4 linked regions of the Homo sapiens genome follow. The protein of the gene in region 1 purifies or fractionates together with the protein of each later gene. This does not show direct contact. Each region holds a gene or a part of one and is shown in the gene's direction. Other genes may lie near its edges.

Region 1 (4,689 bases):
AAGTCTGAGACTGTTTTCTTATTTAATGTCTATTGAATTCTGTTTTACAGAATTTCAAAAGAGCAGGTTCTTAGCTTACTTTTCAATGGAACATTTTAGCCAGGTAGTATAAGTACAGGTGCGGGTAACCTCAGATAAATCAAGGTGTTATGCAGCTGTCTCTATATTAAAAATATTTGCTGACATCAGTGTAGACTTCATCTTGTAGTTCTTCAGTGTTTTCTTTCCTTATCTTTTGCTCATAAGATGGCTTTGTGTTTGGTTTGATATTATACTGAGAAAGCATATTAGAATCAAAGCACCAAGATTTCAAAAGTCCAGACTACTCTTCCCAAAGAGAAATGTGCAATCACAATAGCATGACATGGGTACAAATATAGAAGTATGTTATTAAAGTATTGAGAATTAGCTTTCCTAACCTCCCCACCTGCAATCTTTTACTCCTAATCTCCAAAAAATGAACAAATCATTGGCTCAAAATGGTCACAAATTGTATGTGGTGTTAAAAATCTATTATTTTTATTGTATATAAAATGTTGCCAGGTGTGGTGGCTCATGCCTGTAATCCCAGCACTTTGGGAGGCCAAGGCAGGTGGATCACTAGGTCAGGAGTTCAAGACCAGCCTGGCCAACATGGTGAAACCCCATCTCTACTAAAAATACAAAGATTAGCTGGGTGTGGTGGCGTGTGCCTGTAATCCCAGCTTCTCGGGAGGCTGAGGCATGAGAATCACTTGAACCTGGGAGGCAGAGGCTACAGCGAGCCAAGATGGTGCCATTGCACTCCAGCCTAGATGACAGAGCAAGACTCAGTCTCGAAAAAAAAAAAAAAGTTATACTAGTTGGGCACGGTGGCTCACACCTGTAATCCCAGCACTTTGGAAGGCCGAGGCAAGTGGACCACCTGAGGTCAGGAGTTCAAGACCAGCCTGGCCAACATGGTGAAACTCCATCTCTACTAAAAATAAAAAAATTAGCTGGGCGTGGTGGCAAGCGCCTGTAGTCCCAGCTACTCAGGCGGCTGAGGCAGGAGAATTGCTTGAACCTGGGATTCGCCACTGCACTCCAGCCTGGGCAACAGAGCAAGACACTGTTTCAAAAAAAAAAAAGTTATACCACTATTACTGTAATCATTAAGGGAAGAATACTTCTCATCAGAGTTTGTCTGCAGTAAAGTACTCTTGTCAGCTTTGTGTTCCTTTCTGTCCTATCTTATGTACAAACCGATCTCCATTATGTGTCACCTGCCTTCTAATGGCTGATCATCTTGATTCTTACATTACCTGAAACACAGTGAAAGTGTTAGTGAACTTAGAATAGTGGTTCTTAACTAGAGATTTACCCAGGGAGATTTTTTAAATCCTGATGTCCTGGCCACATCCCAGACTAATTAAATAAAAATCACTAAGGTTGAAAGCCAGTCCTCAGAATCTTTTAAAACTCCTTACGTGATTACAATGGGAAGCCAAAGTTAAAACCAATGAGTTAGAAAAAAAAAAACTATTATAATGAGCAGAAGCAAAACACCCAAGTGACGTTTGTAACATCACTCTCTCACATCTACTTTCAGGTGTTTCGGCATGGAGACCGAAGTCCCATTGACACCTTTCCCACTGACCCCATAAAGGAATCCTCATGGCCACAAGGATTTGGCCAACTCACCCAGGTTGGTTGGACTTTTAGCTAAAGATTGTTGATGAAGCTGGGTGTGGTGGCTCACGCCTGTAATCCCAGCACTTTGGGAGGCCGAGGCAGGCGGATCAACTGAGGTCAGGAGTTCGAGACCAGCCTGGCCAACGTGGTGAAACCCTCTCTCTACTAAAAATACAAAAATTAGCCAGGATTGGTGGTGGGCACCTGTAATCCCAGCTACTCGGGAGTCTGAGGTAGGAGAATCGCTTGAACCTGGGAAGTGGAGGTTGCAGTGAGCCAAGATCGCACCATTGCACTCCAGCCTGGGCAACAAGAGTAAAACTCTATCTCAAAAAAAAAAAAAAAAAAAAAAAGATTCTTGATGAGTCTCAAGGGGAAATGTATATAGAATTGTCTGTTTTGATATTTTTTGCCCTTCTGGCTTTATTTAAATGTAAGAGATGTACATGAACAAAGACTATATGAGCTTAGAAATGCTGAAGAGAGCCAAGTGGTAATCATAAGCCAGGATTTGAATTTCTTAGGCTTCACATGAGAAAGTGAAAAATAGTCTTGTAATCAATAAGCTGAATCAACAGCATTGGGAAACATGATTCCCCAAAGTGCTGATATCAGAATATGATTTCTTGTCAGCTGGATATATTGGGATTTGACCTTCCTTATAAGTGGTCAGTTAAACACAGGGAGCCCTACTTTCTGAAGAGCATCTAAGGAGAAGGTGAACTGGGGAGCAAAGCCATCTTTAGTCACTGTTCCAAAGCCCTATTCCCTTTGCTTGTAAGATTGGATGACTCTTCTGTTTGGAGCCACAAGGCCAGGTGAATTGCTTCTGTCCTGATCTGTTTAAATATATTAATTAAGAAAATGTCACAGAATCTTTAGAGTAGAATGTCTCAAAAACTAATGGGTCTTAATCCTGCCAAAACATTGGGATTATCTGGAGAGGTTTAAAAAATATATTGATGTCTGCCTGGGAGGTTCTTATTTAATTGGTCTAGTATGTGTCCTGGGCATTGGGATTTTTAGAAGCTCCTTGGTGATCAGTTCACTCTAATGTGTAGCCGAGGCTGAGAATTTCTGCCCTGACTATATTTCATAGAGGAGAAAACTCAGGCAGGCTATTTGAGACCAGCATCTTCTGTCTCCCAGGTCAAAGCTCTTCTCACCATAGCCTACCCATCTTCTGTCCCTTTGAATGAAAGAGAGGCTACAAAAATTCAGATTTGCTTGTTAATACCTATGGCTCTGTATAGACTCCTGTTCTGTTGCTATGTTTTCCCATTAAGACCAAAAGATTCTTCTAGGCTGCAGGATCTGAGTTCTTCTTCTGAAGAACCTTGATTACCCATCAGATTCTATTAGGGCAGTATTTCTCAAGCTTCCATGTGCAAATGAATCACTTGGGAATCTTGTCAAAATGTAGATTCTAATTCAGCAGGTCTGATGTGGGACCTGCGATTCTGCATGTCTAACATACTCCCAAGGATGACAATGGCACTGGTACATGGACCACATTTGAAGTGACAAGGTTCTAGGGCTCAGATTCCTACCCTTGTCTAGGTACTTTTTTTTTTTTTTTTTTTTTTGAGATGGAGTCTCACTCTGTCCCCGCAGGCTGGAGTGCAGTGGCTCGATCTCAGCTCACTGCAGCCTCTGCCTCCCAGATTCAAGCAATTCTCGTGCCTCAGCCTCCCAAGTAGCTGGAACTACAGGAGAGCACCACCACGCCTGGCTAATTTTTTATATTTTTAGTAGAGATGGGGTTTCGCCATGTTGCCAAGGCTGGTCTCAAACTCCTGAGCTCAGGCAATCCACCCGCCTTGGCCTCCCAAAGTGCTAGAATTTCAGGCCTGAGCCACCACACCCAGCCTTGTCTAGGTACTTTAAATCTACATAATCATAAGATGATGGCTGTCTAGATCAGTGTCTAGGTACTTTTAATCTGCCTTGTCTAGGTATTTTTAATCTGCATAATCATAAGATGATGGCTGTCTAGATCAGTGGTTTTTAAAGTGTGGTCCCTGGACCAGCAGCATCACCATCACGTGGGAACTTCTCAGTAATGTAAATTCTTCACGCAATACCCAGTGAACCATAAACTTTGGAATTAAAGCCCAGAAGTCTGTGTTTTATTGAGTCCTCCAGGTGATTCTGTGCATGCTAAAGTGTGAAAATCACTGCTTCATACAGACGACTATTTAAAAAGTCAGCTGTAAGAACACAATTAGACCTAAAGTACCTGCTTCTCCGCTACTCAGGTCACGGTATATTATTCCTTTCCCACCTTGTCCCTATCGTAGATGGGAAGTGATTATAGTGGTGGTCAAGCAAATGACAAGTGTGACAAGCAAATGACAAGTGGGACCAAGCAGCAGCCACCGTAACAACCTCCTCTCTGGCTCCCAAAGCTCTAGTAAGGCTCTGGATTAAAGACAAACTTGAATGCTGCATTTCCAAAGCATGGTGCTCTACTACATGCATCTGAATCACTTGGGAGACTTGTTAAAATGCAGATGTCAGGGCCCCACTCAGGAACTAATGAGCTGGAATCTCTGATGGAGATGCTGAGGAATCTGCATTTCAACATGCACCGCTGGATAATTTTGTTTCTGATGCACGGTAATGGTTGTGGACCACTGAGCTAATGCAGTGCATCTCAGTGATTACTGTCCATCAGAAGCTTGTTAAAAAATATTCTTGAGCACCACCCCCAAAGGTTCTGGTTCAGTAGGTCAAGGGTGGGGCCCAAGAATTTGATTTCTATAATGCTTTTAAGTGAAGCCAATACAGACCACACTTAGAGTAACATGTTCTAATTTTTTTATGAACCAGGAATTAATAAACTGGGCAGATAGTAAAGCATTGCCCACAGAGGTTGAAAGAGACTTTCAGATTCATCGAGTCTAATCTCATCAGATGGTTGAGCTTCTTCCACAAAATCCCCACCAAGTGGGTCTCTTTGAATGCTCTACCAACAAGGATCCCACTACATCAGAGATGAACCATTTACTTAAATCAGATCAATCACCCAACTAT
Region 2 (5,359 bases), on another chromosome or scaffold:
AGCCTCCCAAAGTGCTGGGATTACAGGCGTCAGCCACCGCGCCCAGCCACTTTTGTCAAATTCTTGAGACACAGCTCGGGCTGGATCAAGTGAGCTACTCTGGTTTTATTGAACAGCTGAAATAACCAACTTTTTGGAAATTGATGAAATCTTACGGAGTTAACAGTGGAGGTACCAGGGCTCTTAAGAGTTCCCGATTCTCTTCTGAGACTACAAATTGTGATTTTGCATGCCACCTTAATCTTTTTTTTTTTTTTTTTAAATCGAGGTTTCAGTCTCATTCTATTTCCCAGGCTGGAGTTCAATGGCGTGATCACAGCTCACTGTAGCCTTGAACTCCTGGCCTTAAGAGATTCTCCTGCTTCGGTCTCCCAATAGCTAAGACTACAGTAGTCCACCACCATATCCAGATAATTTTTAAATTTTTTGGGGGGCCGGGCACAGTGGCTCACGCCTGTAATCCCAACACCATGGGAGGCTGAGATGGGTGGATCACGAGGTCAGGAGTTTGAGACCAGCCTGACCAACATGGTGAAACTCTGTCTCTACTAAAAAAAAAAAAAATAGAAAAATTAGCCGGGCGTGGTGGCACACGGCACCTGTAATCCCAGCTACTGAGGAGGCTGAGGCAGGAGAATCACTTGAACCCAGAAGGCAGAGGTTGCAATGAGCCGAGATTGCGCCACTGCACTCCAGCCTGGGTGACAGAGTGAGACTCTGTCTCAAAAAAAAAAAATTTTTTTTTTTTTTTTGTAGAGATGGATCTTGCTTTGTTTCTCTGGTTGGCCTTGAACTCCTGGCTTCAAGTGATCCTCCTACCTTGGCCTCGGAAAGTGTTGGGATTACAGGCGTGAGCCACCATGACTGACCTGTCGTTTAATCTTGAGGTACATAAACCTGGCTCCTAAAGGCTAAATATTTTGTTGGAGAAGGGGCATTGGATTTTGCATGAGGATGATTCTGACCTGGGAGGGCAGGTCAGCAGGCATCTCTGTTGCACAGATAGAGTGCACAGGTCTGGAGAACAAGGAGTGGGGGGTTATTGGAATTCCACATTGTTTGCTGCACGTTGGATTTTGAAATGCTAGGGAACTTTGGGAGACTCATATTTCTGGGCTAGAGGATCTGTGGACCACAAGATCTTTTTATGATGACAGTAGCAATGTATCTGTGGAGCTGGATTCTGGGTTGGGAGTGCAAGGAAAAGAATGTACTAAATGCCAAGACATCTATTTCAGGAGCATGAGGAATAAAAGTTCTAGTTTCTGGTCTCAGAGTGGTGCAGGGATCAGGGAGTCTCACAATCTCCTGAGTGCTGGTGTCTTAGGGCACACTGGGTCTTGGAGTGCAAAGGATCTAGGCACGTGAGGCTTTGTATGAAGAATCGGGGATCGTACCCACCCCCTGTTTCTGTTTCATCCTGGGCGTGTCTCCTCTGCCTTTGTCCCCTAGATGAAGTCTCCATGAGCTACAGGGCCTGGTGCATCCAGGGTGATCTAGTAATTGCAGAACAGCAAGTGCTAGCTCTCCCTCCCCTTCCACAGCTCTGGGTGTGGGAGGGGGTTGTCCAGCCTCCAGCAGCATGGGGAGGGCCTTGGTCAGCCTCTGGGTGCCAGCAGGGCAGGGGCGGAGTCCTGGGGAATGAAGGTTTTATAGGGCTCCTGGGGGAGGCTCCCCAGCCCCAAGCTTACCACCTGCACCCGGAGAGCTGTGTCACCATGTGGGTCCCGGTTGTCTTCCTCACCCTGTCCGTGACGTGGATTGGTGAGAGGGGCCATGGTTGGGGGGATGCAGGAGAGGGAGCCAGCCCTGACTGTCAAGCTGAGGCTCTTTCCCCCCCAACCCAGCACCCCAGCCCAGACAGGGAGCTGGGCTCTTTTCTGTCTCTCCCAGCCCCACTCCAAGCCCATACCCCCAGCCCCTCCATATTGCAACAGTCCTCACTCCCACACCAGGTCCCCGCTCCCTCCCACTTACCCCAGAACTTTCTCCCCATTGCCCAGCCAGCTCCCTGCTCCCAGCTGCTTTACTAAAGGGGAAGTTCCTGGGCATCTCCGTGTTTCTCTTTGTGGGGCTCAAAACCTCCAAGGACCTCTCTCAATGCCATTGGTTCCTTGGACCGTATCACTGGTCCACCTCCTGAGCCCCTCAATCCTATCACAGTCTACTGACTTTTCCCATTCAGCTGTGAGTGCCCAACCCTATCCCAGAGACCTTGATGCTTGGCCTCCCAATCTTGCCCTAGGATACCCAGATGCCAACCAGACACCTCCTTCTTCCTAGCCAGGCTATCTGGCCTGAGACAACAAATGGGTCCCTCAGTCTGGCAATGGGACTCTGAGAACTCCTCATTCCCTGACTCTTAGCCCCAGACTCTTCATTCAGTGGCCCACATTTTCCTTAGGAAAAACATGAGCATCCCCAGCCACAACTGCCAGCTCTCTGATTCCCCAAATCTGCATCCTTTTCAAAACCTAAAAACAAAAAGAAAAACAAATAAAACAAAACCAACTCAGACCAGAACTGTTTTCTCAACCTGGGACTTCCTAAACTTTCCAAAACCTTCCTCTTCCAGCAACTGAACCTCGCCATAAGGCACTTATCCCTGGTTCCTAGCACCGCTTATCCCCTCAGAATCCACAACTTGTACCAAGTTTCCCTTCTCCCAGTCCAAGACCCCAAATCACCACAAAGGACCCAATCCCCAGACTCAAGATATGGTCTGGGCGCTGTCTTGTGTCTCCTACCCTGATCCCTGGGTTCAACTCTGCTCCCAGAGCATGAAGCCTCTCCACCAGCACCAGCCACCAACCTGCAAACCTAGGGAAGATTGACAGAATTCCCAGCCTTTCCCAGCTCCCCCTGCCCATGTCCCAGGACTCCCAGCCTTGGTTCTCTGCCCCCGTGTCTTTTCAAACCCACATCCTAAATCCATCTCCTATCCGAGTCCCCCAGTTCCTCCTGTCAACCCTGATTCCCCTGATCTAGCACCCCCTCTGCAGGTGCTGCACCCCTCATCCTGTCTCGGATTGTGGGAGGCTGGGAGTGCGAGAAGCATTCCCAACCCTGGCAGGTGCTTGTGGCCTCTCGTGGCAGGGCAGTCTGCGGCGGTGTTCTGGTGCACCCCCAGTGGGTCCTCACAGCTGCCCACTGCATCAGGAAGTGAGTAGGGGCCTGGGGTCTGGGGAGCAGGTGTCTGTGTCCCAGAGGAATAACAGCTGGGCATTTTCCCCAGGATAACCTCTAAGGCCAGCCTTGGGACTGGGGGAGAGAGGGAAAGTTCTGGTTCAGGTCACATGGGGAGGCAGGGTTGGGGCTGGACCACCCTCCCCATGGCTGCCTGGGTCTCCATCTGTGTTCCTCTATGTCTCTTTGTGTCGCTTTCATTATGTCTCTTGGTAACTGGCTTCGGTTGTGTCTCTCCGTGTGACTATTTTGTTCTCTCTCTCCCTCTCTTCTCTGTCTTCAGTCTCCATATCTCCCCCTCTCTCTGTCCTTCTCTGGTCCCTCTCTAGCCAGTGTGTCTCACCCTGTATCTCTCTGCCAGGCTCTGTCTCTCGGTCTCTGTCTCACCTGTGCCTTCTCCCTACTGAGCACACGCATGGGATGGGCCTGGGGGGACCCTGAGAAAAGGAAGGGCTTTGGCTGGGCGCGGTGGCTCACACCTGTAATCCCAGCACTTTGGGAGGCCAAGGCAGGTAGATCACCTGAGGTCAGGAGTTCGAGACCAGCCTGGCCAACTGGTGAAACCCCATCTCTACTAAAAATACAAAAAATTAGCCAGGCGTGGTGGCGCATGCCTGTAGTCCCAGCTACTCAGGAGGCTGAGGGAGGAGAATTGCTTGAACCTGGGAGGTGGAGGTTGCAGTGAGCCGAGACCGTGCCACTGCACTCCAGCCTGGGTGACAGAGTGAGACTCCGCCTCAAAAAAAAAAAAAAAAAAAAAGAAAAGAAAAGAAAAGAAAAGGAAGTGTTTTATCCCTGATGTGTGTGGGTATGAGGGTATGAGAGGGCCCCTCTCACTCCATTCCTTCTCCAGGACATCCCTCCACTCTTGGGAGACACAGAGAAGGGCTGGTTCCAGCTGGAGCTGGGAGGGGCAATTGAGGGAGGAGGAAGGAGAAGGGGGAAGGAAAACAGGGTATGGGGGAAAGGACCCTGGGGAGCGAAGTGGAGGATACAACCTTGGGCCTGCAGGCCAGGCTACCTACCCACTTGGAAACCCACGCCAAAGCCGCATCTACAGCTGAGCCACTCTGAGGCCTCCCCTCCCCAGCGGTCCCCACTCAGCTCCAAAGTCTCTCTCCCTTTTCTCTCCCACACTCTATCATCCCCCGGATTCCTCTCTACTTGGTTCTCATTCTTCCTTTGACTTCCTGCTTCCCTTTCTCATTCATCTGTTTCTCACTTTCTGCCTGGTTTTGTTCTTCTCTCTCTCTTTCTCTGGCCCATGTCTGTTTCTCTATGTTTCTGTCTTTTCTTTCTCATCCTGTGTATTTTCGGCTCACCTTGTTTGTCACTGTTCTCCCCTCTGCCCTTTCATTCTCTCTGTCCTTTTACCCTCTTCCTTTTTCCCTTGGTTTCTCTCAGTTTCTGTATCTGCCCTTCACCCTCTCACACTGCTGTTTCCCAACTCGTTGTCTGTATTTTTGGCCTGAACTGTGTCTTCCCCAACCCTGTGTTTTTCTCACTGTTTCTTTTTCTCTTTTGGAGCCTCCTCCTTGCTCCTCTGTCCCTTCTCTCTTTCCTTATCATCCTCGCTCCTCATTCCTGCGTCTGCTTCCTCCCCAGCAAAAGCGTGATCTTGCTGGGTCGGCACAGCCTGTTTCATCCTGAAGACACAGGCCAGGTATTTCAGGTCAGCCACAGCTTCCCACACCCGCTCTACGATATGAGCCTCCTGAAGAATCGATTCCTCAGGCCAGGTGATGACTCCAGCCACGACCTCATGCTGCTCCGCCTGTCAGAGCCTGCCGAGCTCACGGATGCTGTGAAGGTCATGGACCTGCCCACCCAGGAGCCAGCACTGGGGACCACCTGCTACGCCTCAGGCTGGGGCAGCATTGAACCAGAGGAGTGTACGCCTGGGCCAGATGGTGCAGCCGGGAGCCCAGATGCCTGGGTCTGAGGGAGGAGGGGACAGGACTCCTAGGTCTGAGGGAGGAGGGCCAAGGAACCAGGTGGGGTCCAGCCCACAACAGTGTTTTTGCCTGGCCCGTAGTCTTGACCCCAAAGAAACTTCAGTGTGTGGACCTCCATGTTATTTCCAATGACGTGTGTGCGCAAGTTCACCCTCAGAAGGTGACCAAGTTCATGCTGTGTGCTGGACGCTGGACAGGGGGCAAAAGCACCTGCTCGG
Region 3 (4,689 bases), on another chromosome or scaffold:
ATTTTCATACATTGAGCTGAAGTTTGGGTTTTACAGGGTTTGTCATGAAAGGGTTTAGTAAACAATAGTATATACAAGGGAAATCTTCAGTTGACTTTTATGTGAACCAATTACATTAGCCCCTGACAAGAAAATCAGCTTGTACTTTGAAGCCTTGAAGCCAAGCATTGACTTTTTATCTTTAGCCATGAAAGTCCTACATGACATCTTCAAGTACAAGGCTGTTTCAGGCTGGGCATGGTAGCTGATGCCTGTAATCCCAGCACTTTGGGAGGCTGAGGTGGGAGGATTGCTGAGGCCAGGAGTTTGAGACCAGGCTGGGCAATAAAATGAGACTCCCATCTCTACTAAAAATTAGCTGTGTATGGTGGTGCACACCTGTAGTCTCAGCTACATGGGAGGCTGGGATGGGAGGATTGCTTGAGCCCAGGAATTGGAGGCTGCAGTGAGCTATGATCACAGCACTGCACTCCAGCCTTGGCAACAGACCCAGACCTTGTCTCTGTAAAAAAAAATGATAATAATAAAAAGGCTGTTTTGTCTACATTGAAAATCTGTTGGTCAGTGTAGCCACCTTCATCGGTGATCTTAGCTAGATCTGGATAACTTGCTACAGGTTCTACATCAGCACTTGCTGCTTCACCTTGTACTTGTAGGTTATGGTGATAACGTCTTTTCTTAAACCTCATGAACTAGCCCCTGCTAGCTTCAGACTTTTCTTCTGCAGCTTCCTCACCTTGCTCAGCTTTTATAGAATTGAGGAGAATTAGGGTCTTTCTCTGGATTAGGCGTTGGCTTAAGGGAATCTTGTAGCTGGTTTGACCTTCTATCCAGACAGCTGAAAGTTTGTTGATACCATCAATAAGCCTGCTGTACTTTCTTCTTTCTTTCTTTTTTTTTTTTTTTTTTTTTTTTTCTGAGACGGAGTCTTGCGCTTGTTACCCAGGCTGAAGTGCAGTGGCATGATCTTGGCTCACTGCAACCTCTGCCTCCTGGGTTCAAGTGATTCTCCTGCCTCAGCCTCCCATGTAGCTGGAATTATAGGCGCCCGCCATGATGTACTTTCTTATAGTTTGTTTGTTCTTTGGAGTAGCACTTTTCGTTTCCTTCAAGAACTTATCCTGTGCATTCACAACTTGGCTCACTGGCACAAGAGGCCCAGGTTTTGGCCTGTCTTGATTTTCGACATGCCTTCCTCACTAAGCTTAATTATTTCTAGCTTTTGATTGAAAGTGAGACAAATGCGACTCTTCCTTTTACTTGAACACTTACAGGTCATTGTAGGGTTATTAATTGGCCTAATTTCACTGTTGTTGTATCTCAAGAAATAGGGAGGCCTGAGAAGAAGTAAAAAGATGAGGAAACAACCTGACGATGAAACAGTCAGAAAACTCACATTAAGTTTGCCATCTTACATAGGTGCGGCTCATGCACCCCAAAATAGTTGCAATAGTCACATCAAAGATCACGGATCATAGATCACCATAACAGACATAGTAATAATTAAAAAGTTTGAAATATTACAAGTATTACTAAAATGTGGCACAGAGACACAAAGTGATCACATGCTGCTGGAAAAAAACGGTACCAACAGACTTGTTCAATGCAGGGTTGCCACAAACCTTTATAAATTGCAATTTATAAAAATTACAATTATCTGTGAAGCACAACAAAGAGAAGTGCAATAAAACAAGGCATCTCTGTAATGAAATCTTAGAGAATTGTTAACATTACATGAAATAAACATGCACAGAATTGTTTTCAACATATATTTTAAGGCAATTATTTAGAATCTTTTAAATGTATATTAAAACTCAGAAGTTTTATAAATTTGAACTTTAAATTTTCCTCACAAGCTAGATAAGTTACTACATTCATCTCTTCCTACGTTCAGCTCTTAATATTTGTGGCTTCTGCATCTGTAGATTCAACCAACTATAAATAGAAAATTTTTTTTTAAAACAAGATAGTTGTATCTGTACTGAACATGTACAGGCTTTCTTGTCAATATTACCTAAATACAGTATAACTAGTTACATAGCATTTACCTTATGTTAGGTATTAAAAGTTACCTAGTATTATTCAAAGTATACAGGAGGATGTGTGTAGATTATATTCAAATACTACACCATTTTATATAACAGACTTGAGGATTTGTGGATTTGGGTATGCAGTGGGAGGTCCTGAAACCAATCCCCCACGGATACCGAGGGACAACTGTATTTTACTATTACTATTATTTTTCCCATTTTTACATGGGAAAAAATGTAAGCATGTTGCATATATGATTGCAAGTGGGTGGCTAGTGCAACATTGCTTAAATTACTGCTGGATAGCACCTCCTTTATTTTACATTTATGTTCACAGTACTGGATTCTCTACATTTTAACCATTGGCATAATTATCATTAATATAAGATATGTTTGGAAACAGTAATTGCTCGTGTATGAAATTACAAACTTATTAAACAATATTAAGGAATTGTTAACATTGTTAGGGTGATAATGATATTATAGTTTTTTTTTATAGTTAACAGTTGTTATATTTAGGTGGTAGATACATCAATATGTTCAAGTTCCTTATACTATTCTTGGTTTTTTGTATGTTCTTGACATTTTTTATAATAAAAAAGTAAAAAAAAAAAAGTTAGCTCAAGATTGTTTCCCCACTTTCTCCTGAAATAATGTAGAGACACTGACAGAAGAAGAGATGTTTTCATTGAATCTATTCTACTAGGAAAGAGATTTTTGAAGTAATGTTTTTAAAGTTTTACTCTGAAAGGTAAAACAGCCACATGTTGCATATTTATGTGTTTAAAACAAAACCTTGGATGAACTAATATTTTTCTACTTTGCTTTTTAGTGGAATATTTCAGATTATTTTTTCCAAAGAGGGGAAACTATTGAAAAAGAACTAAATAAGGAAGAGGCAGCACAGCAAAAGCAGGCAGAAGAGAAAGGAGTTGTTTTAAATCGGCCATTCCACCCTGCACCGCCATTTGATTGCTTGTGGTTATGTCTTTATGCAAAATTGGGTGAACTATGTGTGGATCCCCGTCCTGCTGTCAGGAAGAGTGCAGGGCAAACTCTGTTTTCTACAATTGGTGCGCATGGAACTTTATTACAGCATTCAACCTGGCACACTGTTATCTGGAAGGTATTGTAAAATAGATTGGACTATCAGCTTTTAATGAGTCATGCTTATATATTAATACTTTTTCAGTTAAACTTATTTCTTTTAATTTTTAAAGAATTTCCATGCATTTGTGTATTTGACAAAACAGGAAATAACTGTGTCATATTGTAAATTGTACCTCATAAAGAGCAAATTAAATATTAACAGCCTTATCTCTGTTTCTGTCTTCATCTCTTATTATTATATCTCTCGTGATTTCTGCCTTTGCCTTTCTGTCTCCTTTTTTTCCCCCAGTTTTCCCAAATGGTAAAAACCAGGAGTTACTAAACAACAAAGGGTAATCAATCCCTTACCATAGAGTAGAAAGCTTTTGGGGTTTTTGTTTGTTTTACTTTTGAGGTCTACTTATAGATATGTAATTTAAATATAATCAAAAGAGAATTTTATTAACAGATGAATATCAATAGCAATGAAGTTTATTTGTAGACTCACCAAACAAAAGTAACCTCCAAATGGTATATTGTACATGTAATGTTTATTCATTAAATTACAATTTCATTTTTTTCTTCTTTTGAAACTTTCTAATAAAATCAGCAGTTTATTAGTGATCATTCCCTCTTTGCTAAAAGTCTCATCTTTTTTGTTCCATCTGTTCCATTATAATAAAATTCTGTTTATAATCCTTTCACTTGCTTTTGTGAGTTTTTCAAATTAATAGACCCCAAAATGTCTTCTTAAAAAATTAATGGGCTGGGCATGGTGACTGACACCTGTAATCCCAGTACTTTAGGAGGCTGAGGCAGCAGGATCACCTGAGGTCAGGGGTTCAAGACCAACCTGGCCAATATGGTGAAACCCCATATCTATTATAGTAAAAGCCCTCTTTCCTTCTGTCTTGTATTTCAGTTCCATCCCATAGTTCCTCCTCAGATCACAAACATGCTTAATTCTCCCATACAGTTTGTTTTTAATCTAATACTTTTCTGATTCTAATTTTCCTTTCAAGCAACTTCATTTTTTATCTTCTTGCTGCCTAATTCTTAATGATTTTTTTCTCACACACCTTGCATTGTCTTATTTTCTGTAATTGATTTCCAGACTATTCTACTTCAGTCTCTTAAACATTAGAGAATAACAGAATCACCTTAAAGACTTGTTAAAGCACAGATTTTTGAGCCACTATTGTCAGCCCTCCCTGAACTTGAGTTTCTGATTATTTTGGCCTGGAGTGAGTCCTGAGAATTTGAATTTCTATCAAGTTCCTGGGTGAAGCTTGATGCTGCTGGTTAGTTCAGAGACCACACTTTGAGAAACACAGAAATTATTCATAGGCTACAGTTGGTCTTTTTTTGTGAGTGAAAGATAGGGTCTTGCTCTGTCACCCAGGCTTGAGTGCAGCGGCCTGATCGTAGCACACTACAGCCTTGACCTGCCAGGCTCAAGCGATCCTCCCACCTCAGCCTCTTGAGTAGCTAGGACTGTAGGCTCACACTACCAAGCCCAGCTAATTTTTAAAATTTTTTTTGTAGAGATAGTCTCACCATATTGCCCCGG
Region 4 (4,689 bases), on another chromosome or scaffold:
CTCTTAACCAATTAAAGAAGCCAGTGGCAGCCGGGTGCTGTGGCTCACGTCTGTAATACCAACACTTTGGGAGGCCAGGGTGGGCAGATCACAAGGTCAGGAGTTTGAGACCAGCCTGGCCAACATAGTGAAACCCTGTCTCTACTAAAAATACAAAAAATTAGCTGGGTGTGGTGGTGGGTGCCTGTAATCCCAGCTACTTGGGAGGCTGAGGCAGGAGAAACGCTTGAACCCGGGAGGCAGAGGTTGCAGTGAGCCGAGATCACACCACTGTCCTCCAGCTCGGGCGACAGTACGAGACTCCGTCTCAAAAAAAAAAAAAAAAAGCCAATGGCATTTTTAGTTTCATATTGTGTTTTCCACTGGTATATACCTGTTGATTTGTTTGTGTCTTTTATGAACTGTTATTTTCTGAAATTTTTTTTCAATAAAAGGAAGGAAGATGTGAAAACAACTTTTTATCAAAGTGAATGATTTAAAATTAATACATATTGATTGTTTTTAAGATTCTTAAATAAAATGCATGAATATAGTTTAAAAGGTCAGGTACTACTGTAAGGCTTCTAACAGAAAGCAGCTGTCATGTGTGTTATTCTCCTCTCTACCCAGTTTTCACTTCCCAGAGGCTGATGCTCTTATGTGTTACCACTTCTGTTCTTTACTTCCTTACTCCTGTATGGGTGGCACAGACCTGGCTGTTGTTCTGGGAGTTGAGCAGGGAAATGGCATTGGGGATCTCACTGTTCAGAAGGTGGGCATTCACTATCCCCTAGCTATCAGTAGGGCTTCTTAGCCCCAGTCTCATCTATGCCTTGTAAGCTATGGGCATAGAGCCTCTCCACAGATTTCTTTGTAAGGATCGGGAGGGGTAAGTCATGTGTTTCTTATACAGACTTTCATCCATTACTTCTGTTTTTAGCCCAATCCTATAAGCATGCCTTCACACCTGTTTGTCCTTTTTTTTTTTTTTTTTTTGAGATGTAGTCTCACTCTGTTGCCCAGGCTGGAGTGCAGTGGCACCATCTTGGTCACTACAGTCTCCGCCTCCCAGGTTCAAGCAATTCTCCTGCCTCAGCCTCCTCATTAGCTGGGAGTACAGGTGCACACCACCATGCCTGGATAATTTTTGTATTTTTAGTAGAGACAGGGTTTCACAATGTTGGCCAGGCTGGTCTGGAACTCCTGACCTCGTGATCCGCCTGTCTCAGCCTCCCAAAGTGCTGGGATTACAGGGGTGAGCCACCACACCTGGCCACCTTTGATATTTTGAAGTGCTGGAGTGTTGGTACTGAATTCTTTTAGCTTTCATACATCTGAAAAATCTTTATTTTGCCTTTGTTTTGGAAAATATTTACTCTTAGTGTAGAGTTCTAGGCCAACGTATTTTTCTCAGTACTTCAAAGGTGTTGCCCCTTTGCCTTTTTGCTGACATTGTTTCTTTTTTTTTTTTTTGAGAGGGAGTCTCTCTGTTGCTCAGGCTGGAGTGCAGTGGTGCGATCTCGGCTCACTTCAACCTCTGCCTCCCGGGTTCAAGCAATTCTCCTGTCTCAGCCTTCTGAGTAGCTGGGACTACAGGCGCGCACCACCACGCCTGGCTAATTTTTGTATTTTTAGTAGAGACGGGGTTTCGCCATATTGGTCAGGCTGGTCTTGCACTCCTGACCTCAGGTTATTCACCTGCCTCTGTTTCCCAAAGTGCTGGGATTACAAGCATGAGCCACTGTGCCCAGTCTGCTGACATTGTTTCTGACAAGAAATACACTGTTATTCTTATTTTTGTTCTTTTGTACCTAATCTGTCTTTTTTGTCTGGTTGCTTTTTTCTTTAAATTAAAAAAAATTTTATTTTCGTGGGTACATAGGTATATATATTTATAGGGTATGTCTGGTTGCTTTTAAGATTTTATCACTGTTTTTGAGCAAATTATTATGTGTTTTGATGTAGTTCTTTTTTTTTTTTTGAGACGGAGTCTCACTGTGTCGCCCAGGCTGGAGTGCAGTGGCGTGATCTCGGCTCACTGCAAGCTCCGCCTCCCGGGTTCACGCCATTCTCCTGCCTCAGCCTCCCAAGGAGCTGGGACTACAGGCGCCTACCACCACGCCCGGCTAAGTTTTTGTATTTTTAGTAGAGACGGGGTTTCACTGTGTTAGCCAGGATGGTCTCGATCTCCTGACCTCGTGATCTGCCCGCCTTGGCCTCCCAAAGTGCTGGGATTATAGGCGTGAGCCACTGCGCCAGGCTGATGTAGTTCATGTTATTTGTATGTGGGTTTTGTTGAGCTTCTTGAATCTGCAGATTTATAATGTTTATCAAATTTGGACATTTTAAGGTTATTATTTCTTCAAGTTTTTTTGGTCTGTTACTCCCTTTGGAGACTCCTATTACATGTGCCTCTTGCTGCTTGAAGTTGTTCCACAAGATGTTCATTTAAAATTCTTTGGCCGGCGCGGTGGCGCACGTCTGTAATCTCACACTTTGGGAGGCCGAGGTGGGTGGATCACCTGAAGTCAGGAGTTTGAGACTAGCCTGACCAACATGGTGAAAACCCATCTCTACTAAATACAAAAAATTAGCTGGGTGTGATGGGTCATGCCTGTAATCCCAGCTACTTGGGAGGCTGAGGTGGGAGAATCGCTGGAACCCGGGAGGTGGAGGTTGCAGTGAGCCGAGATCGCACCATTGCACTTCCGCCTGGGCAACAAGAGCTAAACTCCATCTAAAAAAAAAAAAAAAGGCCAGATGCGGTGGCTCACGCCTGTATTCCCAGCACTTTGGGAGGCTGGGGTGGGCGGATCACCTGAGGTCAGGAGTTCGAGACCAGCCTGGCCAACATGGTGATGCCCTGTTGCTACTAAAAATACAAACATTAGCTGGGCGTGGTGGCGCCCACCTGTAATCTCAGCTACTTGGGAGGCAGAGGCAGGAGAATTGCTGGAACCTGGGCGGCGGAGATTGCAGTGGGATTAGGAAGAGTACTCAGTCTTGCCTCAGTAATGAGGAATAACAACACTCTGGTTCCATTTAACAAATCTAAACAGCAAGAACAGAAAAAACCAGAGTTTCCAAATTACTTAACTACATCTCAGAATAAAGCTAGATATTTTATAGGAATGCAAAAATAACCAGCACCCAACAAGGGAAAATCCACAAGTCTACATCCTATCAAAAATTTGCAGACATAAAAGAAGCAGAAAAATATAACCCAAATGAGGAGAAAAATCAATCAAAACTGTCTCAGAACTAACACAGATATTAAAATTAACAGAAAACAACTTTTTTTTTTTTTTTTAGACAGTCTTGCTCAACTAAAAATACAAAAATTAGCCGGGTATGGTGGTGTGCACCTGTAATCCCAGCTACTCAGGAGGCTGAGGCAGGAGAATCGCTTGAACCTGGGAGGTGGAGGTTGTGGTGAGCCGAGGTTGCGCCATTGCACTCCAGCCTGGGTGACGAGCAAAACTCTGTCTCAAAAAAAAAAAAAAAATAGGCCAGACATGGTGGCTTAGGCCTGTAATCCCAGCACTTTGGGAGGCCGAGGTGGGTGGATCATCTGAGGTCAGGAGTTCAAGACGAGTCTGACCAACGTGGTGAAACCCTGTCTCTACTAAAAATACAAAAATTAGCCGGGCATGGTGGCTCATGCCTGTAATCCCAGCTACTCGGGAGGCTGAGGCAGGAGAATCGCTTGGACCTGGGAGGTGGAGGTTGCAGTGAGCCAAGATCGTGCCATTGTACTCCAACCTGGGCAACAGAGTGAAACTCCGTAATCCCAGCACTGTGGGAGGCTGAGGCGGGCGGATCATGAGGTCAGGAGATCGAGACCATCCTGGCTAACACAGTGAAACCCCGTCTCTACTAAAAATACAAAAATTAGCTGGGCGTGGTGGCGGGCGTCTATAGTCCCAGCTATTTGGGAGGCTGAGGCAGGAGAATGGCGTGAACCTGGGAGGCGGAGCTTGCAGTGAGCCGAGATCGCGCCACTGCACTCCAGCCTGGCCACAGCGCAAGACTCCGTCTCAAAAAAAAAAAAAAAACAAATTGTATCTTTATTTTGTTTTAGGTTTTCAGGAAAATTAATTGCAACCTGCCCAGTTCCCACATTCTCCTTCAGTTTGCTCTGTTGTTTACATCTTGTAATAGTGTGATACATTTGTTACAATTAATATTTGAACCAATATATTGTCATTAGCTAAAACCCATACATAGTTTACTTTAGGGCTCACTCATTGTGTTGTACATTGGATTTTGACAACTGTATAGTGACACATGCCCACTATTACTGTATCATACGGAATAGTCACACTGCCCTAAACATTCTCTGTAATGTACCTATCTGTTCCTCTCTTCCCTCCCCACAAACTCCTCCACTGATCTTTTTACTGTCTCCATAGTTTCGCCTTTACCAGAATGTCATATAGTTAGAATCATACAATATGCAGCCTTTTCAGATTGGCCTCTTTCACTTAGCAATGCAATTTTAAGATTTCTGCAACTCTTTCGTGTCTTGATAGTTCATTTCTTTTTATTGCTGAATAGTATTCTACATTATGAAGGCACCAGTTTGTTCATCCATTTGCCTGTTGAAGGACATCTTGGTTGCTTTCAAATTTTGACAATTAAGAATAAAGCTCCTATAAATACTCATGTGTTGGTTTTTGTTGAGACATAAGTTTTCAGCTCCTTTGGGTA

What was found.
Region 2: the proteins of ACP3 (region 1) and KLK3 purify together in Homo sapiens (affinity purification with mass spectrometry, with the first as the bait; one large-scale study listed by BioGRID). This does not show direct contact.
Region 3: the proteins of ACP3 (region 1) and MON2 purify together in Homo sapiens (affinity purification with mass spectrometry, with the first as the bait; one large-scale study listed by BioGRID). This does not show direct contact.
Region 4: the proteins of ACP3 (region 1) and ATL3 purify together in Homo sapiens (affinity purification with mass spectrometry, with the first as the bait; one large-scale study listed by BioGRID). This does not show direct contact.

The regions. Positions count from the first base shown.
Region 1 is NC_000003.12:132,326,697-132,331,385, forward strand, and holds part of ACP3 (prostatic acid phosphatase isoform PAP precursor), read left to right. Parts: intron 1-1,570; coding exon 1,571-1,666; intron 1,667-4,689. UniProt on the Homo sapiens protein: A non-specific tyrosine phosphatase that dephosphorylates a diverse number of substrates under acidic conditions (pH 4-6) including alkyl, aryl, and acyl orthophosphate monoesters and phosphorylated proteins.
Region 2 is NC_000019.10:50,853,238-50,858,596, forward strand, and holds the start of KLK3 (prostate-specific antigen isoform 1 preproprotein), read left to right. Parts: upstream 1-1,677; 5' UTR 1,678-1,718; coding exon 1,719-1,764; intron 1,765-3,002; coding exon 3,003-3,162; intron 3,163-4,791; coding exon 4,792-5,078; intron 5,079-5,221; coding exon 5,222-5,358; intron 5,359-5,359. UniProt on the Homo sapiens protein: Hydrolyzes semenogelin-1 thus leading to the liquefaction of the seminal coagulum.
Region 3 is NC_000012.12:62,550,019-62,554,707, forward strand, and holds part of MON2 (protein MON2 homolog), read left to right. Parts: intron 1-2,862; coding exon 2,863-3,156; intron 3,157-4,689. UniProt on the Homo sapiens protein: Plays a role in regulating membrane trafficking of cargo proteins. Together with ATP9A and DOP1B, regulates SNX3 retromer-mediated endosomal sorting of WLS away from lysosomal degradation.
Region 4 is NC_000011.10:63,653,495-63,658,183, reverse strand, and holds part of ATL3 (atlastin-3), read left to right. Parts: intron 1-4,689. UniProt on the Homo sapiens protein: Atlastin-3 (ATL3) is a membrane-anchored GTPase that mediates the GTP-dependent fusion of endoplasmic reticulum (ER) membranes, maintaining the continuous ER network. It facilitates the formation of three-way junctions where ER tubules intersect.